Homo sapiens: one gene and its partners. The protein of the gene in region 1 interacts with the protein of each later gene in a biochemical or structural test. Each region holds a gene or a part of one and is shown in the gene's direction. Other genes may lie near its edges.

Region 1 (4,230 bases):
ACCCCGGATTCCCGGGGTGCAGGGTTTAGGGCAAATGTCTGTGAAAGTGAGGGGCAAGTCTAGGGGAGGGTTATGAAAATATCTGGGTAGATATGGGGGGTTGGGGGGATGGGGCAGGAAATGGGGACCAGGACCCGGTGGACATGATCCCTGGGGTGTCCATGTGTAGCACATAAGGCATGTAACACCCTGTGGTGTTACATCCGGTGAGAAGCTCCCTTCCCCCAAGCCTACCCCCCTCTCCCCACTCTTTGCCATCTGCTGCTCCCCTCTCCGTCTGGCTGTCTCCCTTCCCGCTTCTCCTACACCTCCTTCCACATGCAGGGGGCCCCGGGCTGGGCAGAGTTAGATCCTTGCGCGTGTGCATCTGTGCGTGTGTGTGCGCGTGCGCATGTGCACGCGTGTGCGTGTGTGTGATGTGGATTGAGGCTGGGCCCTTGAGCAGCTCTCAGGGTGGCGGAGTGGGCTTGGCTAAGAGGCTGAAAGGGTAGCCACGCTGATGGGACCCTCCGTTATGGGCTCCCTCTCGAGTCAAGGCTCAGGCTGCTTTTTGTCTCTTGTTTTCCCAAACAGGCCAATTCTCCCCCAGTGATTGTCAACACAGATACCCTAGAAGCCCCAGGATATGTGAGTTGTTTAGATTTTGGGGCTGGGGCCATTGCAGAAGGAAGGAGGGAGTAAGGGAGGGCAGCAGATGACGGGCAGGTGGTCAGACAGGAATGTCTGTCTCACTGCTTTTGTGTTTCTGTCCCGTGCTGGAGTTGCAGGTGAACGGGACCGAGGGGGAGATGGAATACGAGGAAATCACATTGGAAAGGGTGAGCAGGCTCCTCCATCGGCAGTCCCCGTGGCCTCCCGTCTGTACCTTTCTTTCTGCCATGTGGTCTGGGTGGCTAGCCCCTCACCCTGTGCCTTCCTCCTCTGGCTGCTCCAAGCCATTTCCCACCCCACTTGCCTTGCCAGACTTGGGCAGTGAGGGGAGCTGACCCTCTTCCCCTCCTTCACCCAGGGTAACTCAGGTCTGGGCTTCAGCATCGCAGGTGGCACTGACAACCCACACATCGGTGACGACCCATCCATTTTCATCACCAAGATCATTCCTGGTGGGGCTGCGGCCCAGGATGGCCGCCTCAGGTGGGGAGAGGAGACAGGGGTTAGGTTGCTTGGTCCCTGGAGAGGGAGGGCCAGGGCAGCAGGAAGCTCTTGGCTCAGGCCCACCTTGCTGCTCCCAGGGTCAACGACAGCATCCTGTTTGTAAATGAAGTGGACGTGCGCGAGGTGACCCACTCAGCGGCGGTGGAAGCCCTCAAAGAGGCAGGCTCCATCGTTCGCCTCTATGTCATGCGCCGGAAGCCCCCGGCTGAGAAGGTCATGGAGATCAAGCTCATCAAGGGGCCTAAAGGTAGTAACTCATTTTGTTCCCACCCCCATCCCAACTGTCCTGTGCCCCCAAGCCTGCTTCCTGGGCACCCACCTCTGGCCTCCCCTCCATCCAGGTCTTGGCTTCAGCATCGCAGGGGGCGTAGGGAACCAGCACATCCCAGGAGATAATAGCATCTATGTAACAAAGATCATCGAAGGGGGTGCTGCCCACAAGGATGGGAGGTTGCAGATTGGAGACAAGATCCTGGCGGTGAGGACTCCATCTAGCCCATTTTCTAGCCCAGATTTGGGTCTCACCTACTAGCCCTGGCAGGCCCAAGTTCATCACTTCACCCCAGTGCTTCTGTCTTGGGCCATTTGTGGCTTTGTCTGAGCTTTGCTTTCCTTGACTCCAGGTCAACAGTGTGGGGCTAGAGGACGTCATGCATGAAGATGCTGTGGCAGCCCTGAAGAACACGTATGATGTTGTCTACCTAAAGGTGGCCAAGCCCAGCAATGCCTACCTGAGTGACAGCTATGCTCCCCCAGACATCACAACCTGTGAGAGCCCTTCAAACACCAAAGTTCCCCATGACCCATCCCGTTTAACCCATGACATGCAGTCCCACGACATCCCTGTAGCTGTCCCTCTTCAGATATTCCCTATGAAATAGCCACAACCTCTGATCCTTGCTGTTGTTGGAGAAGAGATGGAAAATCAATTACCATAAAAGAACTAGAAAAGATCGTCAACGATCTCTCTCCTGGAAGGCACAAAGCCTGGTTGGTTTTATGGCTAATTTTGTGAAATTCTCAAGGAATAGATAATTCTTCTGCTCTTCCAGAGTACAGGAAAAGATAAAAGATTTCACATTTCATTTTATAAGGCCAGTTCGAATGGTCACAAGGATAGTGTAAAATAAGGAGAGTATAGACCCGTTTTGCTTCTGAATAGAGATACAAGAGTTTACAATAATATAGTAGCAAAGCAAACATGGCAGCATGTTAAGGGAATAACATAGGGTTTGTTTCAGAAAACTAAAGATGGCTCAATATTAGGAAATCTCTTAATATGATTCATATATTAAAACGTTACGGGAGGCTAAGTGTGGTGGCTCATGCTTGTAATCCCAGCACTTGGGAGGCCAAAGTGGGAGGATTTGAGACCAGCTAGGGATTTGAGACCAGCCTAGGCAACAAAGCGAGATCCTGTCTCTAAAAAAATTAAAAAAATTAGCACGTGCCTATACTCCTTGCTACTTGGGAGGCTGAGGCTGGAGGATCGCTTGAGCCGAGGAGTTGGAAGCTGCAGTAAGCCAATGATTGCGCCACTGCCCACCAGACTGGGTGACAGAGCGAGAGGAGAAAACGATGTGATTATCTTAAATAGACGTGAAAAAGGCATTTGGTGAAATTCACCATCTCTTTTGGATGAAAGCTTTTAGTAAACTAGGAACACAGAAATTTTCCTTAAGATGGTGAAGACTAGTTATCAGGAACCAGTAACAAACATTTTATAATGATACAATTTTAGCAGTGTGTCCATTAACTTATTTTTTAATTTAATTTTAATTTTTTTCTTGAAATGGAGTTTCGCTCTTCTTGCCCAGGCTGGAGTGCAGTGGTGTGATCTCAGCTGACTGCAACCTCTGCCTCCCAGGTTCAAGTGATTCTGCTGCCCCGGCCTCCCGAGTAGCTGGGATTACAGGTGCCCACCATCACGCCTGGCTAATTTTTGTAGTTTTAGTGGAGACAGGGTTTCACCATGTTGGCCAGGCTGGTCTCGAATGCCTGACCTCAGGTGATCTGCCCTCCTCGGCCTCCCAAAGTGCTGAGATTACAGGCGTGAGCCACCGCGCCCGGCCTCCGTTAACTTACAAAGAGGGCAGGGATGCCTCTTCCCACTGCTATTATTCTTCATTGCTTTAGAGCAGGGTTTCTCAGTGTTACTCCTGACATTTTTGGACCCAATAACTCTTCATTGTGGGGGGTTGTTCTGTGCCTTGTGGGATATTAAGCAGCATCCCTGGCCTCTGTCTATCAGATGACAATGGTACTCCTCCCCCTCAGTCATAACAATTAAAAAATGTTATGACAGAATTGCCCCAGCGAAATTATGGTGGTTGAGAATCACTGCTTTAGAGATTTCAGACAGTGTAACAAGACAAGGAGAATAGTTACATTTGGAAGGGAAAAACAAAAGTTATCTCTATTTGTAAATTATACTACTGTGCATCTAGATCAAAATCTAAGTGAATTAACTGGAAAAATATGCAAAGTTAAGAATGTGGCTATTTGTTGGCTGGGCGAGGTGGCTCATGCCTGTAATCCCAACACTTTGGGAGGCCAAGGCGGGCGGATCACCTGAGGTCAGGAGTTTGAGAACAGCCTGGCCAACATGGAGAAACGCTGTCTCTACTAAAAATACAAAAAAAAATTAGCTGGGTGTGGTGGCGAGCGCCTGTAATACCAGCTAATCCTGAGGCTGAGACAGGAGAATTCCTTGACCCTGGGAGGCGGAGCTTGCAGTGAGCCAAGATCTCACCACTGCACTCCAGCCTGGGCGATAGAGCGAGACTCCATCTCAAAAAAAAAAAAAAAAAAAAACCAAAACAGGCTGGGCGCGCCGGTGGCTCATGCCTGTAATCCCAGCACTTTGGGAGGCCGAGATGGGTGAGTCACCTGAGGTTGGGAGTTCGAGACCAGCCTAACCAACATGGAGAAACCCCATCTCTACTAAAAATACAAAATTAGCCGGGCATGGTGGTGCATGCCTGCAATCCCAGCTACTCAGGAGGCTGAGGCAGGAGAATTGCTTGAACCTGGGAGGCGGAGGTTGCGGCGAGCTGAGATCGCGCCATTGCACTC
Region 2 (4,230 bases), on another chromosome or scaffold:
CAGGCCCAGCCCCAGGCCCAGTGGTATTACTGAATTCACTGAATGTGGATGCAGTATGTGAGAAGCTGAAACAAATAGAAGGGCTGGACCAGAGTATGCTGCCTCAGTATTGTACCACGATCAAAAAGGTGAGGCAGCCACTTACACACGGACCAGAGACAGCGCTGGGGGCGGAAGACAGGACTGTGTGGGTCGTGTAAACTTTATGTATAGCTTCCCAAACATGCATTCCCTGTTAAAATGGGAAAGCTCTAAATGGAAAACATAATTCTTACTAGTTTGTATTCTAAAATTGCCCTGTTTTCTCTTATTTTATAAATGGATAAAATAAAATAAAGTAGCTGTCTTACCATGTTCTTTTTTAAATGACGTAATACAAGTAAAGAATGCCTTGATGAGAAAGAGAAAGCTCTGAGGGATTCCCATTGGGATAAACAGAACTCATCTTTCCAGTGTGGAACCGAAAACCTTTGTGTTACATTTTTTTCTAATTGTAATATTTGTTAGTGTGATTTAGTGATTATCAAAGTAAGCCACACTTGCCTCATTTTCTCCAAATTCTCATTTTCATGTCATGTAGGACTTAGGATCATGTCACATTTGATGAAACCACATAGGTTTGGGTTTGCAAGGTTAATGCATTTGCATAGTTTTTTTTTCTTCTAAGATCCTATTGCAATTCTAGCAGCTATCAGGAAGTTGGCTAGAGATGCCTGAGATTTGGGGGAAGGTTTTAACGAAGTCTTTATAGTAGGTATTTCACTAAGGTATACTTTTTATATCAGAGTACTGTGTAATAAAGTAGAACGTTAATAACCAGCCTCTAATATTTATATACTTGAAAGAATGACATCTGAGAGAAGTTTTTTAAAGAATTATGAGCATATGTAGACACCATTTTACTCATCTCAGCCAATTTTAGAAAGGTTTCAGATAATGTCAGTTTCCTTACAGAGCTGGCTCGTGCTAGTCCCTGTTTGCATGAGTCAAACACCGGCTTTTCCATGGATAAGCCCCACTTTCTCCTTCAGGCAGCTGGTTGGTGTCAGGAAAGAGCGGGGTCTCCCACACGAGTCCTTTGTGATGATTTTGTTCCCATCGGGGTAGTGGTTTTCTCCCCACTCAGCTCTTTGCTCCTAGACCCCGGCTTTCTGAAGCCCCTCAGAGCCGCTGGCCTCCTCCGTGCTTAGGGCTCCGCGGCATTGTTGCAGCAGGACCTCTGTCACAGACTTGCTGTGTATACTGTTTTCTTCAGGATTAACTTGGAAACTGAACATTCTATTGATTATAAACATAGCTATTTCATAAATTTGCCCCAGTTAATAAAGTCAGGTTTTACATTTTATAAAAGCAGTAAGCTACCTATTATTAATAAAGAAAATGCTGTTGTTTCATTTAGGGGAAACTAGAATTACAGGGAACCAAAAGTAATAACTTCCTTTTTTATGATTTTTTTTTTCTTTGAGATGGAGTCCTGCTATGTCACCCAGGCTGGAGTGCAGTGGCGTGGCCATGGCTCACTGCAACCTCCCGCCTCCTGGGTGCAAGCGATCCTCCTGCCTCAGCCTCCCAAGTAGCTGGGACTACAGGCATGTGCCACCACTCCCAGCTAATTTTTGTAGTTTTAATAGAGATGGAATTTCACCATGTTGGCCAGGCTGGTCTCGAACTCCTGACTTTAGGTGATCCACCCACCTCAGCCTCCCAAAGTTCTGGGATTACATGCGTGAGCCACCGCGCCGGGCCTTGTGAATTTAATAGACTGGAAAATTAGTGGGTGGGCATTCTTCATATCTGTATCTAATATAACGGATAAACAAGTTTGCCAGGCCTACTTCATTTAGAACGTTGTTAGTGACCAACACGCTTATGAGAACAGATGTCTTTGTCCCCTCCCAGCAGCTTGTGTTCATGTTCATATTTTCTAAGATTAGAAAACAAAAACTAACAGTTTTGTTGTTGCTCATGACAGCATAGGTAGTTTTGGAAATAGGAGGGTTAGTTCTTCGGTTGGTCCCAGAAAATGCCTAAGACATTTGGGAAAATATGAAGTGGCTGATGTTGTTCAAATTCAGCTTGTTTATTGTATTATTATATGGGATGATAACCTTTTTTTTGGTCAGCCTTTCTGGTCTCTAGAGACTTATTTAAAACTAAATATAAGCATACTTGGCAATCACTAGTAATTCAGAATATTTCACATTCTGTCTTTATACCCATAATTGTTTTAATTTTTACTCAGGCAAACATAAATGGCCGTGTGTTAGCTCAGTGTAACATTGATGAGCTGAAGAAAGAGATGAATATGAATTTTGGAGACTGGCACCTTTTCAGAAGCACAGTAAGATATTTGTAACATTGTGATGTTTACAACATTATTTTATGATAACATTCAAAATTATTTATAACATTGTAGAAAACCAGTATCAATAAGTACTGGCCTAAACTGGTATTTTTTTCATATTTTTTTAAATTTAAAAACTGCTTCTTACACTTATGTGCAATCCTGTGTTGTGGAAAATACACACAGCAGCACTTGGCAGCCTTTGCCTTTTTGGGCATTTCACTCAGAGATTTGGGGAAGAGGCCGCCTGCCGGTTCTTCATGCTTTCACCTGCCTTAACTCTCATCAGGCTCCTCAAAGCCTTCGAGGCCTTGACCTTCAGCATTCATCCTTATAGGGCTTGCATTGCCCAGGTTTAGCAAGAATCCTGTTAAGTCAGTTTACATGTGTGATCACCCTCAGTATTTGATCAAACGCCTCACTAACCCCCCCACCCCCAGGTGATGTCGGCTCACCCTGGCCATCGGCGTACCAAGAGTCCCCCACTCCTGCTGCCTCCCCTTAGTAATGTTCCATCCACGACCCCCACCCTGCCCCTTGGTGGTAGATCCCCACTCATTCGTGCTTATTCCGAGTTGGACTCCCTTCTGTAGTGAGACTGCTTACCCCTGTTGCCATAGTTCTGAATAAAATCTGGACCTACCGCCCTACTCCTGGCCAGCTCTGGTTTTGACACAAGCCAGCTGCATTTTTCTTTGTCCTCAAGTTAAGTTTTAAACAGAAGTAATAATTTAATGGACAAATTGCAGTGTAGTATATGTATGGTGGTTTCTACCATTGCTTCCTTTAGTATTAATGAACATGAAAGATAAGCTGATGTATAAAACAAATTCACTAGAAATTCACTTACCAGAAGTATGCTTTCTCATTGCTGTTGCAATAGCTTTATAATGTTTGGTATTTCTAAATATTTCTAAAGCTTCTAAAATATGATTTGTTAGTGTAAATATTTATGTTTTTCTTCTGTTAAGGTACTAGAAATGAGAAACGCAGAAAGCCACGTGGTCCCTGAAGACCCACGTTTCCTCAGTGAGAGCAGCAGTGGCCCAGCCCCGCACGGTGAGCCTGCTCGCCGCGCTTCCCACAACGAGCTGCCTCACACCGAGCTCTCCAGCCAGACGCCCTACACACTCAACTTCAGCTTCGAAGAGCTGAACACGCTTGGCCTGGATGAAGGTGCCCCTCGTCACAGTAATCTAAGTTGGCAGGTATTTATTGAATGGCATTTTTCATATTATTGAAGAATAAGCACACCGTTCAGTTCACTGAGATTATATGGGCATTTAGACAGTCATTCAGAAAATGCTTACTGAATACCTAAGTGAACAGGAGACAAGATGGAGGGCTCCCTGTACTCAAGGAGCTGCATCCATGTGGAGAGGGGCAGTCAGTGAAACAAACAAAAAAGTAGCTCATGTAGACATTGATGAGAGCTGAGATATCCATCAGGGTCACAGCATGCAGAGTCAATAGGGATTAGGCCACTTGAGCTAGGGTGGTCAGCAAATTCAGCCTTTCTCAGGCGATCTTCCTGTTGCATTCAGTAACTGTTGGTTGAAGTACATCTTCATTGGAACACTGGCCACATAGTGTCCCTTTGAGCACCATCCTTTGGTTTTCCAGGACGCCTGCACACCCTTCACGGATATTGGTTTCTTCTGGTCTGGCATTAGATGTAGGCGCGTTCTTCCTTTGGAGATTCTTAGAAGAAGGAGGCCAGGTGAGGGGTAGGGGTAGGGGCAGGGACAGAGCAAAGTGAGAGATGCAGGAGGAGTAGCGGGAGTGAGGAGAGCGCAGGAGGAAAAGCAGAGCAGGGTGTGGAGAACAACGGGGGAGGAGGCACAGCGGGCGGCAGCGAGTAACACTGAGTGGGCAGGGCAGGGCAG
Region 3 (4,230 bases), on another chromosome or scaffold:
AATCCCTGGCAGCAGCGACGGCTCCAGTTCACGAGGTCCTGAAGAAGAGGAGACAGGCAGCCGCGAGGACCGGGTAGGATGCCAGGGTCCCCAGACCTGACTGTGCCTCCAGACCTAAATAATAGCCCAGTCCCAAGAGGGTCCCCAAATTCAAATAGGACTCTAAGGCCAGGCATGGTGCCTGACGTTGGTAATACCACTTTGGGAGGTGGAGACACAAGGATCACTTAAGGCCAGGAATTCAAAGCCAGCCTGGACAGCATAGCAGGACCCCATCTCTACAAAAATACAAACTAAAATAAAATAAAAAATGAACCGGGTATGGTGGCATACACCTATAGTCCCAGCTACTCAGGACACTGAGGTGGGAGGATCCCTTGAGCACAGGAGGTAAAGGCTGCAGTGAGCTATGATTGCACCATGCACTCCAGCCTGGGCTACAGAGCAAGACCCTGTCTCCATTTTTTTTTTTTTTTTTTATGTAGGAGGGCTCTAGTCTTTTTTTTTTTGGCAGAATTTCACTCTGTCACCCAGGCTGGAGTACAGTGCTGCGATCTCGGCTCACTGCAACCTCTGCCTCCCTGGTTCAAGTGATTCTCTTGCCTCAGCCTCCTGAGTAGCTGCGATTACAGGCGCCCACCACCACGCCTGACTGATTTTGTATTTTTAGTAGAGATTGGGTTTCACCATGTTGGCCAGGCTGGTCTCAAACTCCTGACCTCAGGTGATCCACCCGCCTCGACCTCCCAAAGTGCTAGGATTACAGGCATGAGCCTCCACGCCCGGCCTGAGGGCTCAAGTCTTTTTTTTTCTTTCTTTCTTTTTTTTGAGACGGAGTCTTGGTCTGTAGCCCAGGCTGGAGTGCAGTGGCGCGAACTCGACTCACTGCAAGCTCCACCTCCCGGGTTCACACCATTCTCCTGCCTCAGCCTCCAGAGTAGCTGGGACTACAGGCACCCGCCACCATGTCCAGCTAATTTTTTTGTATTTTTAGTAGAGACGAGGTGTATACCGTGTTAGCCAGGATGGTCTGGATCTCCTGACCTCGTGATCCGCTCGTCTCGGCCTCCCAAAGTGCTGGGATTACAGGCGTGAGCCACCGCGCCCGGCCAAGGGCTCTAGTCTTAACAGTGACCCCACACCCAAATGTCACCCAAGTCCATGCCCCTGACCCAATTATTCCCTAGGCCCAGTATGTCCCCACAGCCCGTTTTTGTTGTTGTTGTTGTTGTTGTTGTTGTTTTTGAGATAGAGTCTTGCTCTGTCGTCCAAGCTGGAATGCAGTGGTGCAATCCAGACTCACTGCACCCTCCACCTCCCAGTTCAAGTGATTCTCGTTCCTTAGCCTCCTGAGTAGCTGAAATTACAGGTGCCTGCCACCATGCCTGCCTATTTTTTGCATTTTTAGTAGAGACAGAGTTTCGGCATGTTAGCCAGGCTGGTCTCAAACTTCTGGCCTCAAGTGATACTCCTGCTGCGGCCTCCCAAAGTGCTGGGATTACATGCATGAGCCACTGTGCTGGCTTCTTACAGCCCTTTTATTGTCCTGAGTGCAGTCCCCAGCTCTTGGGTGCTCTTACTCCCTCCTGCCTGGCCTCCACTGGCTGGCTGAAGGTCCTTGGGGTCTGGCATTGGGGCGGGGGGATCCTCTGACTATTCCCTCTCACTAAGTTCCCTACCCCAGGGCCCCATTGTGCACACTGACCACAGTGATCTGGTTCTGGAGGAGGAAGGGACTCTGGAGACCAAGGTGAGTGTTGAGAGGGGTGGGGCTCCCTTCACTGTTGGGAGAGGCGGGGCTCCCTTCATTGTGTTTCCGTCTCTCTCCCACGCCTGTCCCCTCCTTTTTCCTTCTGTTGTCCTCAGAGTTGGGACTCAGCTCCCCACCCCACTCCTCCTGCCCCCTGGGCCATCTCACTCAGCTCCCAGCCTCAGTTTGCCTGTCTGCAGACTCTTCCCACACATCTGTCCCAGCCCTAGCCTCCATCTGGAGCCCCAGACCAGGGCTCACCCTGCCTGTGCTCTCCTCATCACGGTCAAGCCCCCTTTCAGCCACCAGGTCCTACACTGGCCCCACATCTCCCCAGACTGGTTCTTCCTCTGGGGTCCTACCTCAGGACAGCCACATTGACTCCAGGCCATCCCCAGGCCAGAGCACTTCTCTCTCTCTCTCTCTCCTGCGTACCTAGCACATGCCATTCTCTCTCTTCTTTTTTTTTTTTTTTTTTTTGAGACGGAGTCTCATTCTGTTGCCCAGGCTGGAGTGCAGTGGTGCAATCTCAGCTCACTGCAACCTCTGCCTCCTGGGTTCAAGCCATTCTCCTGCCTCAGGCTCCCTAATAGCTGGCTAATTTTTCTTGTATTTTTAGTAGAGATGGAGTTTCACCATGTTGGCCAGGCTGATCTGGAACTCCTGACCTCAAGTGATCCGCTCGCCCCAGCCTCCCAAAGTGCTGGGATTACAGGCGTGAGCCACTGTGCCCAGCCGACATGCCATTCTCTTGGCCTGAAACACTCCTACCTTCCTTCCCATGTCTACCTAATTCCTTCCTTTAGTCCTCCAGTCTCAGCTCAGACATTTCTTGTTCTAGGAAGCCCATGCTTCCGTCATGACAGCTCGATCATTTTGCCTGTGTTCCACCCATCACAGCCATGACCACTCTGATCTGGGCTTCCTTATCCCACCCACTATGCTGAGGGCTCTACCATCACAGCCCCTGTCATTGCCTATGCCTTTCCCAGGCACAGCCCTGACCCCTCTGGGTACTGTCTCATGATCTGTCATTTTTCCTTTGGTGTGGGATTCTGTGAGGACAGGGTCCAGTTCTATCCTAGTGACATGCCTTGTAGCAGCAACACAGGGTGTGACACTGAATCAAAGCCTAGAGGCTGTTGGGCAGGTGAGTGTCTCTCTCCTGTTCCCTCTGCACCTTCCACACCGACACCCCTCAGCAGGCCTATATCCCTCCGTCTCTACCTTTCTCTGCCTATGTCCTATCCATTTGCCTCTTATCACTGTTCCTCTGTCTCACTTTCTCTCTCTCCCAGTCCATGTGTGTCTCTGTGTCTCTGCCCACTCCTGTCTCTTTTTGTCTCTCTCAAGGTCTGGTCTATTTCAGTGTGTCTCTCCATCAGTGACCCTCATCCCCCCTGCACGCTCACAGACTTTACTGAGTCCCATTTGTCCCCTCAGGACCCAACCAACGGTTACTACAAGGTCCGAGGAGTCAGTGTGAGCCTGAGCCTTGGCGAAGCCCCTGGAGGAGGTCTCTTCCTGCCACCACCCTCCCCCCTTGGGCCCCCAGGGACCCCTACCTTCTATGACTTCAACCCACACCTGGGCATGGTCCCCCCCTGCAGACTTTACAGAGCCAGGGCAGGCTATCTCACCACACCCCACCCTCGAGCTTTCACCAGCTACATCAAACCCACATCCTTTGGGCCCCCAGATCTGGCCCCCGGGACTCCCCCCTTCCCATATGCTGCCTTCCCCACACCTAGCCACCCGCGTCTCCAGACTCACGTGTGACATCTTTCCAATGGAAGAGTCCTGGGATCTCCAACTTGCCATAATGGATTGTTCTGATTTCTGAGGAGCCAGGACAAGTTGGCGACCTTACTCCTCCAAAACTGAACACAAGGGGAGGGAAAGATCATTACATTTGTCAGGAGCATTTGTATACAGTCAGCTCAGCCAAAGGAGATGCCCCAAGTGGGAGCAACATGGCCACCCAATATGCCCACCTATTCCCCGGTGTAAAAGAGATTCAAGATGGCAGGTAGGCCCTTTGAGGAGAGATGGGGACAGGGCAGTGGGTGTTGGGAGTTTGGGGCCGGGATGGAAGTTGTTTCTAGCCACTGAAAGAAGATATTTCAAGATGACCATCTGCATTGAGAGGAAAGGTAGCATAGGATAGATGAAGATGAAGAGCATACCAGGCCCCACCCTGGCTCTCCCTGAGGGGAACTTTGCTCGGCCAATGGAAATGCAGCCAAGATGGCCATATACTCCCTAGGAACCCAAGATGGCCACCATCTTGATTTTACTTTCCTTAAAGACTCAGAAAGACTTGGACCCAAGGAGTGGGGATACAGTGAGAATTACCACTGTTGGGGCAAAATATTGGGATAAAAATATTTATGTTTAATAATAAAAAAAAGTCAAAGAGGCAAGTGTGTCTTAGGGAGTCTACTGGCATTATCACTCTCCACCAAGGAAGGGGTCCCTTA
Region 4 (3,975 bases), on another chromosome or scaffold:
CACCTCAAAGTTCATCCAAAACTGACCTCAGTGTCTGCCCCCACCCCTCCTGCTCCTCCCCTTCCAGTCACCCAAGCATGAAACAGGGGAGTGGGACTCCCTTTCCTCACCTTCCACATCCAGTTCCTCACCAAGACCCAAGGGTTCTTCAAATAACCCTCAACTCCCTCTCCTCTCCATCTCCTTGTCACTGCCCTGATCCAGCCACCCCTGGTGACAGTCAGGTCCTCCTGCCTCCAGTCTGGCCCCCTCCAACCCATTTCCCACATGGCAGCAAAGATATCTTTGGAAAATGCCAATCCGATCACTCCATTTCACCACTTTAATCTTGTCAGCAACCCTTTATAAACACAGTTTCCTTTTGAAAGCCTGCTGGGATCTGGCCGCTGCCCCCACTGTCTGGGCTAATCTCTCAGCACTGCCCCCAGCTCCGGCTCTACTTGCCAACCCCCTACCCATCTTTGTAGGTGACATGTCCACTGCCTGCCATGCCCCTTCTCTGCCCAGTGAACTCCCACTCATCCTTCAAGGCCCAACTCCAGTGTGTCCTCCTCTGGGAAGCCTTCTCACCCCCCACCCCAGGCTGAGCTGGTAACTCCCTCCCCTGGGCTCTCCCAGAGCCTTCCCCAAAGCTTGTTTACCCGTCTGAATCTGACCTGGCTGAGCTCCTTGAAGACAGAGCCCTGCCTTATTTATTTTCAGTCCTTAGAGAGAGGCTCAGGGAATGTGAGAAGGTAGAGGGAGGGAGGGAGGGAGGGAGGAGGGGAGAAAAGAAGGCAGGCAGGAAGGAGGCAGAAGAAGAAAGGCAGGAGAGAAGAAAGGAAGGAAGAAAAGGATAAGTCAAGCAAAGATATTGAGGAGCAATTCATTCATCCATCTATCTATCCATCCATTCCTTCCTTCGACAAATATCTGCTGAGTTCCTATCAAGCACCATTCTTGGCACTAAGGATATAACAGTTAACAAGCGGAAGCTACCAGCAGCTGACCCTCAACATTTCCAGGTGACTTTGGTGTGTGCATATGTGAGTGTGTGTGTACACGTGGGTGCAAGCCCTCTGTCTGCACAGGCCTGTTGCCAGGGCACCTGTCTTCCCTAGGGTCTGGTGCTTTTAGCCTCTGGCTCCAGCTCCTATTGCAGCCCGAAATAAGGCTGTGACCCATGGCAAGGCAGGAATGATTCTCATCAGCTGAAGCCAGAGCTGGCTGCAGGGGACACCCTGCTCGCTGCCTACTGACTGCTGACCGCTGACTGCCTACAGGGACGCCACGCAACTCTCAGCTTCCCGACAGAGGTGTTAATCTTGAGGGTCTAAGATTCCCTCCTGCCTATTGTGGTCCCATCCTCTCAGGTACCAGCATCCTAGGGGAGCTTGGGGAACTCAGGGGAGTGGGCAGAGGAGGTGAGCCAATCCCCAGAGCTCCTTCCCCCGGAGAGGAAGGGCCCTGCAGTGGATCTAGGGAGTTTGGGGCCCCATGCAAGCCTCGATCCTGGTTTGGGAGGAGAGGAACTCTAAGCTCTAGGTTACCCTGCATTAAATGGGGAGGGTGTGGCTAGGATTAAAGGTGGGGAATAGGTAATGGCTCTGCTCAGGACTTTGGGATTTTTAGGCAGTAGAGGGAAGCAGCTTCTCTGTAAAATGAGAGACCCTTCCCAGCATCTGTGAATTTCTGTAAAGGGAGTGTTTATCAAGAAACAGATCTGTGGACTGTGGAATCCTAAACGGTTGTGATCGAGGCATTCTCAATCATCCCATGACCCTCACCCCAAATGCATGTAGACACACTCATGTTTACGTATAGTTTTAGGGGGTTTGTGAACACCCTAAAGCCCATCCATGGATCTCTGTGATTTAGCCTAACCCCCTACTGTTACAGATGGGGGAACTGAGGTGCAGAGCTGGAAAGCTACTTGTTCGCAGTTACAGAGAAAGCCAGGGACACCCACTAGACTCCAGTTGCACAATGCAGTGCCCACTGACTCCCAGGGCCCCTTGTCGGTGTTGGGGATACAGATGAAGGCAGATTGTTTTCTAAAGGAAGGAGTATAGGAAAACCTGGAGGCAAAGGAGAAGGGTACCCAGGTGGGTGGTCAGTCGAGGAGCTCAAGGGCTCTGCCTCTTCTCCAGAGGGCAAGTTAAGGTACCTGGGCAAGTTAAGGGCTCTGGACCTCATTTTATTTGCAAATCTCTTCCAAGATTCTTTGAAAGTGCCATGAGATACAAATAGGGGGATGGAACAGGAGGAAGAGAAGGGACGAGGGAGAAGAGAACACCACGGAAGTTAGCCCAGTAGCGGGGAGATGGGGAGGACGGGGGATGGTTCTCTCTGCTTGGTTGGACCAGCCTGTGCCCTCAAGCGTCAGGGCCAAGTGCCAAGGATGAAAGGGGCTCACCAGCCTTGCAGACCCCAGTGTAACCCCAACCTAGTCCATCCTCCCCCTTCCCCTAACTTAAACCTCCAACTTCTTTCAGCCTTGGACTAGGACTCTCCTGGGTCAACCGATGACAGTAGTGCCTGAGACCTTTGCCTGCCCCACCCGGATGCCCCTGGCACCTACTCTCCCTCTGATCAGGATGCCAGAGCTGGGAAAAGGCCCTAGAAACCACCCCTGAAGAGACAGTGCTTCCCTAGCAACATGAAAATAGATTCGTGCAAACTTGAGCACCTCCCTCTCGTTCCCTGGGCCTCAGTCTCCTCTGCACGGAGACCCTGAAGTCCCTTCCAGCTCAGACATCCCTTGCTTGTGATTTGGGGCTGGCCTAAAGCTGTTCAGGACTGGGGCAGGGTGAACCAGAGACTGGAAGGAGGTCTGGGGAGAAATGGAGGCAGCCTGGTCCATTTATGGGGGTCTCTCCTCCACAGGATGATCCCCAAGGAGCAGAAGGGGCCAGTGATGGCTGCCATGGGGGACCTCACTGAACCAGGTAAGGTGGTTCTAGCCTCATGCCTTCCTCAGACTCCATCATTTCCTTGCTCCCAGGCTGCACTCACTCTGGCCTGCTGGCCCCAGGCCTGGGCAGACAGGTGTGAGCTCCAGGCCAGCTCTGAGGGAGTGCCTGTAGAATTTGCTGCCTAGGCTGGGAAGCTTCCCTGAGGCACTGGGAGGGGTCTTGCCCATCTGTCCACAGACCCAGGAGCTGAGGCTGAGTGTCCCAGGCTGGGCCTTGGCTCTAAAATGACCCTGGCCCTGGCTTCATCTAAGGCCTCACCTCAGCCCCAAATTAAGCTCTGAAGACTCTGGTCCCAACTCCAGCCCTACCTGTGGCTGCAAGCTCTGCACACACTTGCCTTTGCCTATTACTCCTGTGGGTCTCACCGAGGCCTCTGGGTGGCCCAGGATGGCTGGGCCCCATGGCTAAGAGAGGGGAGTGGAGAGAGTGGAGTAGGGTGGGAAGACAGGGGAGTCGAGAGAGTGGAGCAGGGTGGGAAGAGCAGGCTGCCCATTTGAATACAAAACTTTCTACTTAAAGCTGATTCATCAAATGAGTAAATCATTTTTATCATTTCATTAAAAAAGTTTAAATTCATTTTTATCAATTTTAGAAGACCTCTTGAGGAACTCTTGATACAATTTTGGAATCTGTTTATTTGGTCTACTTTAGAGGATTTCAGGTATTTTAAAAATTAATTTAGGGGCTGGACACAGAGGCTGATGCCTTTAATCCCAGCACTTTGGGAGGCTGAGGTGGAAGAATTGCTTGAGCCCAGGAGTTTGAGACCAGCCGGGGCAACATGGTGAGACTCCATCTCTACAAAAAAAAAAAATTAGCCAGGCATGGTGGCACATGCCTGTGGTCCCAGCTACTCAGGAGGCTGAGGCAAGAGGATCGTTTGAGCCTAGGAGTTGGAGGCTATAGTGAGCTACGGTTGTGCCACTGCACTCCAGCCTGGGTGACAGAGGGAGACTCTGTCTCTAAAAAAAAAAAAAAAGAAAAAGAAAAAAATTAATTCAACTAAGTCAGAGTTCTCAAG
Region 5 (4,903 bases), on another chromosome or scaffold:
ACTGAGTAGATTTATGCTCAAAAGACAACTAGAGTGGCAAAAAGTCTGTAAACCATGTCCTATGAGGCATGGTTTGAAAGAACTGAGGATATTTAGCCCAGAGGATGAATGACTTGGCGTGACATGCTAGATATTTTAAAGGGCTGTCATGTGAAAGAGGAATTAGAAATTGTTTGTGTGAAGCTATTTTTTCCTCAACCTAAGGAAGACCCTTTTAACAATTAGGAAATGATCAAATATGGAATAAGCTGTTTTGCATAGGGATGAGTTTCTCAGACTGTCAGAAGGATATTTCTGCACTGAGCAAGAGGATAAACATGGCTTCTAAGGTTCCTTCCAATTCCCAGGTTCTGTGATTCCCTGCTAGATTTACAAGTATGAAGGTGGAAAAGATGGCTAAAGAATATGAGCCCAGACAAAACATCCTCCGTTGATTTTAAAACCAAAATTCCATACCAGGGATATTTGCTTGAGGACTATCTCACTGTCTAGCTGAATGGTTGCCAATATTTAGAGGCCTAATTGCCCTGGACCCCTGTTTCCTTGTGCCCTACCTCTAGCTGAATTTCCATCTTGGCATAGAAGGTACAGAGGGAGTTGTAGGGAAATGCCAAGAAGGAGATCTCAGAGACCAGAGTTATAGAAATGCTCAGAACTGTTTTATGAAAACATTGGTATGGGCCCAGTGAGTGGAGAGAGAACATGCTTCCTGTCCTTGTTGAGCTCTATGTTGCTCACTTGTTATCCCCAACCCCCCTTATCTCTTACATCTTCAACTAGCCAGCAGGAGGGTTGGTGCAGGAGGAGGGGTAGAAGGAAGTAATTTCAGGTTCAAGGGTTAACAGTACACTGGTCAGGAAAGCTGAGGAATGAGATGATGAGCATCTTTACAGTTTGTGAAAATGAAACAAACAAAACAACTTGAGAATCATGTTCCTGGAATTGTGTCCAAATGAATGTCTCAGGTTGAAGGGACCAGGACTTTGACTGTGATGCAGTATAGTATTTATAGGGATCTTGCTTGGCCTTTCAGAGCAAAAACAATTATTTTCTCTCCTCTCACCTAACACAGCTGTGCAGAATCTTCATAGCCTGGTTGCTAGAAATTAGGGTTCTTATAGCTGCTGTGGAATAAACTCCATTCACTTTCCTCTTAACAATCCCTTCTCTCTGTCTTTGACCAAATGTTACCTGTTGTTTCACGAAGTGACCTTTTCTTCATTGCACCCCATTAGCTGCTCTTTCACTCCCAGTCACTTCCTGAAGTCCTCATCACTATCACAGATCTGCCTACCAGGGCCATGTCTGACCAGGGCCATGTCTGCAGCCTAGCCCATATTAACTTTGCCAACACTTCACCATTTTTCTCTGCATGTCCTCTCTCTAGTAATGTGCATGTCTGTGATATTAACCCTGGGACAGAAAAGTAAGAAATCTATCAGAATCCTCGCTGAAAGTCTTATTTCTCCTTGAAACCGAAAGAGCTTTCAAACGTGGCTTCCTGAGTTTTTCAGTTTGCTGGTGGGTGGGTCTGGAGTGGGCATCCCGTCTGCACATCTGGTAGAGGCACTTTCCACATTTTCCTCATGACTCAGGATCAGTTTCTGACTGCTGGGCGGGGCAAAGCCTCCTGAAGTTGCTGCGAGGCACCTCCCCCTGTGAGCAGAGCTTGGTACAGCCCAAATAGTTTTCAGGTTAAGAAAGCCAGAATCTTTGTTCAGCCACACTGACTGAACAGACTTTTAGTGGGGTTACCTGGCTAACAGCAGCAGCGGCAACGGCAGCAGCAGCAGCAGCAGCAGCAGCAGCAGCAGCAGGGCTCCTGGGATAACTCAGGTGAGTAGAGAGGGAATTCGCAAACTTACCCTGGAGTTTTATTTCCTGGATAACTTAGCGTCTAAGAAAGATGAAGAAACTTCAACTTTGTAGTTAACCAAACTCCACAGCTATATTTTATGGCTTGTCTGGATCAAATATGTGCCCGTTAATAGCAGTTTGAGAACTTCAAAAATAATGGAATTTTTGGTTGGTTATTTTGAGGGGTGTGTGGGGTGATGATTGTGGTTGTCTGGCAATGAAACTTTTCTGGGGATATCTGGTCAGTTTTTTGTGTGTGTGCACACACGCGTGCATGTGTATGTGTTTGCCTTCTGCTACCCAAAATACCTGGTAAGTGAGGAAAAATCACAGGGGATGGTGTTGAGGGGGAGAAGCGTGGCTCCTTTCAGGGCCTCCTTCTAGCTTCTGCTGACCCACAGCTGTGGGAAAATTATTGAAATGCGAGCAAAATCTTGGAGCCACACTGTGTGCAAAAGGCCTGTGAACTCTGGTAGGAGGGTGAGCAGGCTGTGCAGTGTTGTACAGGAGGAAGTGGTGGCCAAGTCTATCTTAACTCCCTGTCTGCACAGCCAGTGGTCTTCCTGCCCTGGTGACAGGTTGATCTTGGCTATTCCATTTTCAGCCTCTGGCCTGGCTTTGTTCCCCTCTGATTCCAGCTTTGGTTTAAACTTTGATTTCAAGATGGGGCTCCATCCTCCACTCCCAGGCCAAGTACACTGTTCTAGGGTCTTCACTGGACCACTTGATCAGAACTGGCTTTGGGTGGGGGACGGGAAAAAGGAGCGGTGCATTGTAATGGAAACAATTGGTTCTGAGGATTTGGAACTGTAAGTTTGCTGAAAAGCACATAGGAAAACTCAGCAAATTCTGCTGTCCTAACAATTACTTCTGGCTTCAGGATAAAACATCCTGGTTTGTATTATTGGTGTATTGAAATTCAGCTAATGCCTCATTTGCTAATCTTTATTGTGAAAGTAAGAACACTTTACAGTCTGAAGTAATAAACAAAAAAATTATTTGTGGACTGCTAATTAACTCTTTTATTCCTCTGGAAGTTTGTGTGTGTGTGTGAGCATGCTTATGTGCACGTGTGTGCCTGGGTGTGTGTGAATACTTTGTATTCAAATAGCGTTCTTTATTTGTCCTTAGACTCCCTAGCAGTCTAGGGAAAAAGTCTAAACACTTACATGGTCAGGAATAGGTTAAAAAGCAGGCTTTCCATATCCTTGGGAGTTTTCAGTTCCTAAATTAAAAGCAGAAAAAGTCCCTTTGTGACCCCAAAACAGTGTTTCTTTGATTAGCCTTGATTTGAAATCATCTCACCTTCTGACAGCTTGCAATTCAAAAACAAAACTTCTAAGTGCATTCTTGTGAGAAGAGTACAATATGAATTTTTAAAAGCAACGTCTTGCTTGACATATTGTGTCTGCATGTTTGCCCTCCTCCCCACCTTACAACAAATTGTGGTTTAAAAAAAAACGTTGGGAGGTCCCAGTTTTAGTGTGGGCTCTGTCACTAACTACATAACCCTGGGCAAGTGCCTTTACCTTACAACAAAAGAAAGAAGTTGTACTAAGTGATTTCTAACAGACTTTCCAACATAACATTCTATAAAATCAGAATTTGATTCTTGAAAGGCTGGAAAAGTAGACATATAGGATGGGCTTATTCGGCCAAAAGGGCAAGTCAGCCAAAAAAGGAGGGGTGAAATAGGGAGGTGTAGAGAATGGTGGAGGGGCAATTTTTATATTAGTCTTTTAAATGTTGGTGCATGTCTTATTTAAAGCACATGATCAAATTTCATTAGTTTCCCCTAAAGACAGAAAAGAAATTTAACTTGTTAAAATAAGTGCTTCCTAATACTACTGCCCTGCTTTAGCCTTATCTTTAACAATAAAGAGTATGTTCACATACATAATTTCATTACATTCTCCCAATAACACTCTGAAGTAGACAGGGAAGCTAACATATTCCCATTGTGCTATGTGGAAACTGAGGGACTGAGATGTTATGTATACTAAATGGTGATATTTTGGATTTGTTTCTGGATCTTGTAACCACCTGTGTTCCTTTTATCATTTTGAATTGCTTTTTATTTTTTGATAGAGTTATTGAGCAACCGAATTAAAATTGTGTCCTCTTTTTTTTCCTTTGAATGGCTTTGAACAGACTCTTCTCTCTGGGCCAGTAGGTACATCCTATATAAGGCAGTGGGCTGGATCAGAGGATCTCTGTGGTCCTTTTTAGACCCAGAATATCTGGTTAGAAGTTTGAATCTGAACAGCCATACATAAGTCCTGTGGTTAAATGCGTGCCCATGTATGTAAGCTATGACTCTGCCTGTGTACCTATGAAAAGCACTATTCTCTGTATACCATGTGGATGCTGAATTTGTATTACTTTTTCCTATCCAAGTCCCTTTTCTCTCACCATACCACCCCCCAGGTGTGGGGATAAGGGATGTGGATTGTGGGTAAAAGTGGTGCCTACTTCATGCCAGGGCAGAATTGGGTCTTCTGTATTCAATTTGTCTGCAAACTTTTATTGATTTTATCTTGATTTTTGCTCCAAGTACAGAACAGGGATGAAACTGAGGAAAAGGAGAAACTAGGCAGGAACAATGCCTCAGCCATGCCCTCTCTCCCTCTCCCCATTAAGTTCCCTCATGTTCTCTCCCACTCACCTAAATCCAAAGTGGCTTGTGAACCACAGACAGGATGTATTTTATCAGATTTTTTTAGAGCAAAATATGCTTTTTGCTCTAAGGCTAACCCGCAGGTTAAGAAGCAAGAGATTTTGCTTTCACGACTTGCCTAGCTTCCTCAAGCTTTCCAGTCCAGTGAGTAGAAAAAAAATACCTCTCTCTTTAAACTGCAGCCTTGTATTCTACGTGGCAGTCTCCCTCAACTTCCCTGGCAATTCTCAACTTTCTGCACTCTGGGCCCGCTCCTATCCTTTGCCTTGGCAGACACGGTTGTCCTCATATTCTTTCTCAAAGTGGTGGATCTGAATTATAATAATATTGCCTAAGACCATTACCTCAATGCTAAGCCCCACCACACTC
Region 6 (4,230 bases), on another chromosome or scaffold:
AAAATACAAAAATTAGCCAGGTGTGGTGACGCACACCTGTAGTCCCAGCTACTCGGGAAGCTGAGGCAGGAGAATTGCTTGAACCCGGGAGGTGGAGGTTGCAGTGAGCTGAGGTTGTACCACTGCACTCCAGCCTGGCAGCAGAGTGAGACTTCGTCTCCAAAACAAAACAAAACTAAAAACACATATACGACTTTTGACTCTTCAAAAACTTAACTAACAGCCTACTGTTGACCAGAAGCCTTACTGATAACAAAGAGTTGATTAACACGTATTCTGTATGTTATATGTATTATAGACTGTAGTCTTAAAGTAAGCTAGAGAAAAGAAAATGTTACAAAGAACATCTTAAGGAATAGAAGATACATTTACAATTCATTAAGTGGAAGTGGGTCATCATAAAGGTCTTCATCCTCATTGTCTTAAATTAGAGTGGTCTGAAGAGAAGAAGACAAGGGGTTGGTCTTGCTTATCTCAGGGGTTGCAGAAGCGGAAGAAAATCCATATATAAGTGGACCCATGCAGTTCAAACCTGTGTTGTTCAAAGATCAACTGTTTAGTCTTAATATCTAGTCAAAATAAAATAGAAAATATTATCTCTTTATCTTCTTTCACATATATACAGATGTTCTTCAACTTAGTATGGGGTTATGTCCTGATAAACTCATTATAAGTTGAAAATATTGTAAGTTGAAAGTGCATTTAAGGCGGGGCGCAGTGGCTTACGCCTGTGATCCCAGCACTTTGGGAGGCCAAGACCGGGTGGATTACCTGAGGTCAGGAGTTCAAGACCAGCCTGACCAACATGGTGAAACCCCGTCTCTACTGAAAATACAAAAATTAGCCGGGTGTGGTGGCGTGCGCCTGTAGTCCCAGCTACGCGGGAGGCTGAGACATGAGAATCGCTTGAACCCAGGAGACAGAGGTTACAGTGAGCCAAGATCGTGCCACTGCACTCCAGCCAGGTGACAGAGCGAGACTCCATCTCAAAAAAAAAAAAAAAAGTGCATTTAATACACCTAACCTACTGAACATCTTAGGTTAGCCTAGTCTATCTTAAATGTGCTCACAACACTTACATTAGCTTACAGTTGGGCAAAATCATCTAACACAAAGCCTATTTAAAATAAAGTATTGAATATCTCATGTGATTTATGGAGTCCTGTACCAAAAGTGAGAAGCAGAATGGTTGTGTGAGTACTCACAGCACCGTTACTACCAAACGCATATTGCTAGCACAAAAGTTTCACTTAAGGAAAATTAGAAATCTTGCTGCATTCTTATTATTTCTATTATTAGTCTTCACATCTTTTTTTCTACCATTACAGGACATTGGTTCTCCTCATGCTTCTGTAGGGAGTCCTCTGGATGGTCAAAAGGTTAAGCTTTTCACCTTTCTTCTCCTTCCAGTCTTTCTCTGTGTCTGTTTTCTTCTGTTCTTCCTGTTTTACGTGTGTTTCTATCTTTTCTGCCATATATTAATTATAAATGCTATGACCAGTGTCTGTTTCATTTAATATCAGATACACAAAATTACTGCAACATGAGTTTTCTTGTCATGTATTTACCAGCTTGAATTTATTTATTTATTTTTACTTTATGTATTTATTTATTTATTTATTTATTTTGAGATGGAGTTTCGCTCTTGTTGCCCAGGCTGGAGTGCAATGGTGTGATCTTGGCTCACTGCAACCTCTGTCTCCTGGGTTCAAGCGATTCTCCTGCCTCAGCCTCCCAAGTAGCTGGGATTACAAGTGCATGCCAACATGCCTGGCTAATTTTGTATTTTTAGCAGAGATGGGGTTTCACCATGTTGGTCAGGCTGGTCTCGAACTTCTGACCTCAGGTGATCCACCCGCCTTGGCTTCCCAAAGCGCTGGGAATACGGCATGAGCCACAGTGCCTGGCCTCTGACTTGAATTTAATTCTGTCATTAGTGGATACTCTGAACATTAAATCAAGAAAAATTTTTCATTTGTTATATATACCTTTCTATGGGGAACAAAAGTGCTAATTCTTCAAGGGATTAATTTGATAGTAATTAGATGAAGCAAAACAACTTGTGGTATAACTCTTGCAGTTTTATTCATACTGTTGTATTTCTTCCCTCAAACCAACAAACTTGTTTTTTAAACACTGAGTAACTTCTTTAAGAGAAAACATAGTTAAAGTTATCTTTCATTTAATATTAAATAGGGAATATTTACATAGACTCCCTTGTCTTCATTGCACTTTTTTGTTTTGGAGACAGGGTCTCACTCTTTTGCCCAGGCTTGAGTGCAGTGGCACAATCACGGCCCACTGCAGCCTCGACTTCCCAGGCTCAAGTGATCCTCCCACCTCAGCCTCCCAAGTAGCTGGGACAACAGGCATGTACCACCATGCCCAGCTACTGTTCTTTTTAAATTTTTTGTAGAGATGGGGTCTCACTTTGTTGCCCAAGCTGGTCTCAAACTCCTGGCCAGAAGCAATCCTCCCACCTCGGCCTTCCAAAGTGTTGGGAATTACAGGCATGAGCCACTGTACCTGGCCTTTAATGCACTTTGTAGGCAAGGAAATTGTAGGATCCACCGTAATCACCACAGGAATGTTGATGGGTTGTTTTTTTTTTTTAAAGCAAAATTTTGGCTAGACTGTCAGTCCTATTTTTTCTTCTAAAGATGGTGGGTTCCTAACAGCTGCAGAGCTGAGGAGGCGGCCCTTGCAAGGCAGGGATTGTTAGAGGTGGGGGAAAAAAAACAAACATTTTTTTTTTTCTATTATTCTTTTACTATTTTTTCTATTACCATTTTTTCTAGTACCATTTTTTCTATTATTCTTTTACTATAATTGTATATAATATGGCAGCTGCTTGCCACATGTACTATGTGGAGAGATGTACCACCCTGCATCAGCTTTTACCCTACAGAAGGAAATCAGCGTTCCATTATATTTTATTGTTATCAACAGTTTAGGAATACATAGCTTTGCTTTTGCCTTTTTCTTTCCTTCCCCTTGTTTCCCCTCGCCTCAGAGAAAAGAAGGAAAAAAAAATTCATCTTTCCTACCCCCCTCTTTTTGGATGATAGGACTTGAAGACAATCTGAAATACCACATAAACTCACTTCCAGATGTTTTTTGTTTCATATGCAATTGAATTGGGCTCAGACTGTGTTTTTAAGCTGTATGGTAAAAATATCACTGTCTTCTAGGGCCTTATTGGGGGGCAGGGAGAGACGTGACACTTTGTCAGAAGGGATTGAGTCTGCTAACTTAAACTTTCCTTGATTCAGGAATACAAAGTCTCCAGCTGTGAACAGAGACTCATCAGTGAAATAGAGTACAGGCTAGAAAGGTCTCCTGTGGATGAATCAGGTGATGAAGTTCAGTATGGAGATGTGCCTGTGGAAAATGGAATGGCACCATTCTTTGAGATGAAGCTGAAACATTACAAGATCTTTGAGGGAATGCCAGTAACTTTCACATGTAGAGTGGCTGGAAATCCAAAGCCAAAGGTGAGCTGGGAGATGGAGGCTTTTTAAGAGTCATTCTCTGAGGAAAGGTTTAGCTTCCAAAACATAGCATGCCAGTAGGAGAAAGAGATACAAATGATCTTTCTCAATACCCACGATATAAAGGGTTTTAAATATTCTTAAGTTCTGGGCCATCTTCAGGAGGCATTAGAAACCAAAAAAGGTGGTGGGGGGAGTGGAGTTTGGGTTTGAAGAATAGAGAATAACTAACAGGGAGCTCTTCACACACCTATATCATTTATTCCTCGTTGTTATTCCCAAATCACAAATAACTAAACTGAGTTCTGTGAAGTGAGTTTCCAAGGTCAGAGAGCTGGTGAGTGGCCAGGCCTGCATATGAACCCAGTGCTCTGTACCATACAGACAAGTAATGCTCACCACTGGTTGTAAAAACTTCCAATCTTTAATCAAAAAACCAAGGCTGCTTATATTAATATTTACAGAGGGAGGTGGGGTGAAGAATATTGTTTAGAACGGATAATGACAAATTCTGATACCATGCAGGACTAGGATGACCTGGATGGGAGCTCTCTCCATACAAACATATGGAAATGCTGGATAAGGAGCTGCCCTATCTTTAAAGGAAGGACTAGAATAACTGTTTACTAGCCCAGCAAGGCAGTAAACAGGAGTACACTTTTCCCTAGAGCTTGAGTGAAAAGAATAAAAAAAAGGGAAAAAATTAAAACCCCTAAACTACACTATCACATGATAGGGA
Region 7 (2,291 bases), on another chromosome or scaffold:
TCAAGCAGAGCCAGCAGTCGTGCCAGCAGCAGACCTCGGCCTGATGACCTGGAGATCTAGATACAGGCTTGAAAGCATCAAGATTCCACTCAATTGTGGAGAAGAAAAAAGGTGCTGTAGAAAGTGCACCAGGTGTTAATTTTGATCCGGTGGAGGTGGTACTCAACAGCCTTATTCATGAGGCTTAGAAAACACAAAGACATTAGAATACCTAGGTTCACTGGGGGTGTATGGGGTAGATGGGTGGAGAGGGAGGGGATAAGAGAGGTGCATGTTGGTATTTAAAGTAGTGGATTCAAAGAACTTAGATTATAAATAAGAGTTCCATTAGGTGATACATAGATAAGGGCTTTTTCTCCCCGCAAACACCCCTAAGAATGGTTCTGTGTATGTGAATGAGCGGGTGGTAATTGTGGCTAAATATTTTTGTTTTACCAAGAAACTGAAATAATTCTGGCCAGGAATAAATACTTCCTGAACATCTTAGGTCTTTTCAACAAGAAAAAGACAGAGGATTGTCCTTAAGTCCCTGCTAAAACATTCCATTGTTAAAATTTGCACTTTGAAGGTAAGCTTTCTAGGCCTGACCCTCCAGGTGTCAATGGACTTGTGCTACTATATTTTTTTATTCTTGGTATCAGTTTAAAATTCAGACAAGGCCCACAGAATAAGATTTTCCATGCATTTGCAAATACGTATATTCTTTTTCCATCCACTTGCACAATATCATTACCATCACTTTTTCATCATTCCTCAGCTACTACTCACATTCATTTAATGGTTTCTGTAAACATTTTTAAGACAGTTGGGATGTCACTTAACATTTTTTTTTTGAGCTAAAGTCAGGGAATCAAGCCATGCTTAATATTTAACAATCACTTATATGTGTGTCGAAGAGTTTGTTTTGTTTGTCATGTATTGGTACAAGCAGATACAGTATAAACTCACAAACACAGATTTGAAAATAATGCACATATGGTGTTCAAATTTGAACCTTTCTCATGGATTTTTGTGGTGTGGGCCAATATGGTGTTTACATTATATAATTCCTGCTGTGGCAAGTAAAGCACACTTTTTTTTTCTCCTAAAATGTTTTTCCCTGTGTATCCTATTATGGATACTGGTTTTGTTAATTATGATTCTTTATTTTCTCTCCTTTTTTTAGGATATAGCAGTAATGCTATTACTGAAATGAATTTCCTTTTTCTGAAATGTAATCATTGATGCTTGAATGATAGAATTTTAGTACTGTAAACAGGCTTTAGTCATTAATGTGAGAGACTTAGAAAAAATGCTTAGAGTGGACTATTAAATGTGCCTAAATGAATTTTGCAGTAACTGGTATTCTTGGGTTTTCCTACTTAATACACAGTAATTCAGAACTTGTATTCTATTATGAGTTTAGCAGTCTTTTGGAGTGACCAGCAACTTTGATGTTTGCACTAAGATTTTATTTGGAATGCAAGAGAGGTTGAAAGAGGATTCAGTAGTACACATACAACTAATTTATTTGAACTATATGTTGAAGACATCTACCAGTTTCTCCAAATGCCTTTTTTAAAACTCATCACAGAAGATTGGTGAAAATGCTGAGTATGACACTTTTCTTCTTGCATGCATGTCAGCTACATAAACAGTTTTGTACAATGAAAATTACTAATTTGTTTGACATTCCATGTTAAACTACGGTCATGTTCAGCTTCATTGCATGTAATGTAGACCTAGTCCATCAGATCATGTGTTCTGGAGAGTGTTCTTTATTCAATAAAGTTTTAATTTAGTATAAACATAGCTTCTATATTCCGTGTGATTTGTTTCCCCTGCCGAGATGGAGTCTTGCTCTGTCACCCAGGCTGGAGTGCAGTGGCGCGATCTCGTCTCACTGCAACCCTTGCCTCCCGGGTTCAAGCAATTCTCCTGCCTCACCCTCCCGAATAGCTGGGATTACAGGCACCGCCACCGCACCTGGCTAATTTTTGTATTTTTAGTAGAGATGGGGTTTCACCATGTTGGCCAGGCTGGTCTGGAACTCCTGACCTCGTGATCCGCCCACCTCAGCCTCCCAAAGTGTTGGGATTACAGGGGTGAGCCACCGCACCTGGCCTATATTTAAAACTCATTGACGGCATCTATTTGAGATTATTTAAACACATTTCTATTGGTTATCAGAACTTCAGCAAATAACAGTCATGTTTTCAGGGACAATATTTATCATTAGCTCTGTTCAGTGCAACATAAATTGTAAACATTTTTGGATATTTATTGAACCAAAAGGAAGATAAAGTGTTGAA

The links.
Region 2: the proteins of DLG4 (region 1) and KIDINS220 interact in a test that uses a peptide from one of them, tested with the Homo sapiens proteins (one large-scale study listed by IntAct).
Region 3: the proteins of DLG4 (region 1) and KIRREL2 interact in a test that uses a peptide from one of them, tested with the Homo sapiens proteins (one large-scale study listed by IntAct).
Region 4: the proteins of DLG4 (region 1) and MYOZ3 interact in a test that uses a peptide from one of them, tested with the Homo sapiens proteins (one large-scale study listed by IntAct).
Region 5: the proteins of DLG4 (region 1) and CAPN6 interact in a test that uses a peptide from one of them, tested with the Homo sapiens proteins (one large-scale study listed by IntAct).
Region 6: the proteins of DLG4 (region 1) and PALLD interact in a test that uses a peptide from one of them, tested with the Homo sapiens proteins (one large-scale study listed by IntAct).
Region 7: the proteins of DLG4 (region 1) and GJA1 interact in a test that uses a peptide from one of them, tested with the Homo sapiens proteins (one large-scale study listed by IntAct).

Annotation. Positions count from the first base shown.
Region 1 is NC_000017.11:7,200,596-7,204,825, reverse strand, and holds part of DLG4 (disks large homolog 4), read left to right. Parts: intron 1-573; coding exon 574-627; intron 628-758; coding exon 759-818; intron 819-1,009; coding exon 1,010-1,134; intron 1,135-1,232; coding exon 1,233-1,402; intron 1,403-1,496; coding exon 1,497-1,633; intron 1,634-1,778; coding exon 1,779-1,923; intron 1,924-4,230. UniProt on the Homo sapiens protein: Postsynaptic scaffolding protein that plays a critical role in synaptogenesis and synaptic plasticity by providing a platform for the postsynaptic clustering of crucial synaptic proteins.
Region 2 is NC_000002.12:8,732,766-8,736,995, reverse strand, and holds part of KIDINS220 (kinase D-interacting substrate of 220 kDa), read left to right. Parts: coding exon 1-128; intron 129-2,242; coding exon 2,243-2,341; intron 2,342-3,315; coding exon 3,316-3,552; intron 3,553-4,230. UniProt on the Homo sapiens protein: Promotes a prolonged MAP-kinase signaling by neurotrophins through activation of a Rap1-dependent mechanism. Provides a docking site for the CRKL-C3G complex, resulting in Rap1-dependent sustained ERK activation.
Region 3 is NC_000019.10:35,862,964-35,867,193, forward strand, and holds the end of KIRREL2 (kin of IRRE-like protein 2 isoform c precursor), read left to right. Parts: coding exon 1-73; intron 74-1,684; coding exon 1,685-1,750; intron 1,751-3,193; coding exon 3,194-3,529; coding exon of another isoform or gene 3,530-3,573; 3' UTR 3,574-4,173; downstream 4,174-4,230. UniProt on the Homo sapiens protein: May regulate basal insulin secretion.
Region 4 is NC_000005.10:150,660,076-150,664,050, forward strand, and holds the start of MYOZ3 (myozenin-3), read left to right. Parts: upstream 1-1,175; 5' UTR 1,176-1,352; intron 1,353-2,865; 5' UTR 2,866-2,866; coding exon 2,867-2,927; intron 2,928-3,975. UniProt on the Homo sapiens protein: Myozenins may serve as intracellular binding proteins involved in linking Z line proteins such as alpha-actinin, gamma-filamin, TCAP/telethonin, LDB3/ZASP and localizing calcineurin signaling to the sarcomere.
Region 5 is NC_000023.11:111,267,304-111,272,206, reverse strand, and holds the start of CAPN6 (calpain-6), read left to right. Parts: upstream 1-1,723; 5' UTR 1,724-1,836; intron 1,837-4,903. UniProt on the Homo sapiens protein: Microtubule-stabilizing protein that may be involved in the regulation of microtubule dynamics and cytoskeletal organization. May act as a regulator of RAC1 activity through interaction with ARHGEF2 to control lamellipodial formation and cell mobility.
Region 6 is NC_000004.12:168,895,221-168,899,450, forward strand, and holds part of PALLD (palladin), read left to right. Parts: intron 1-372; exon of another isoform or gene 373-532; intron 533-1,328; coding exon 1,329-1,379; intron 1,380-3,272; coding exon 3,273-3,494; intron 3,495-4,230. UniProt on the Homo sapiens protein: Cytoskeletal protein required for organization of normal actin cytoskeleton. Roles in establishing cell morphology, motility, cell adhesion and cell-extracellular matrix interactions in a variety of cell types.
Region 7 is NC_000006.12:121,447,937-121,450,227, forward strand, and holds the end of GJA1 (gap junction alpha-1 protein), read left to right. Parts: coding exon 1-60; 3' UTR 61-1,791; downstream 1,792-2,291. UniProt on the Homo sapiens protein: Gap junction protein that acts as a regulator of bladder capacity. A gap junction consists of a cluster of closely packed pairs of transmembrane channels, the connexons, through which materials of low MW diffuse from one cell to a neighboring cell.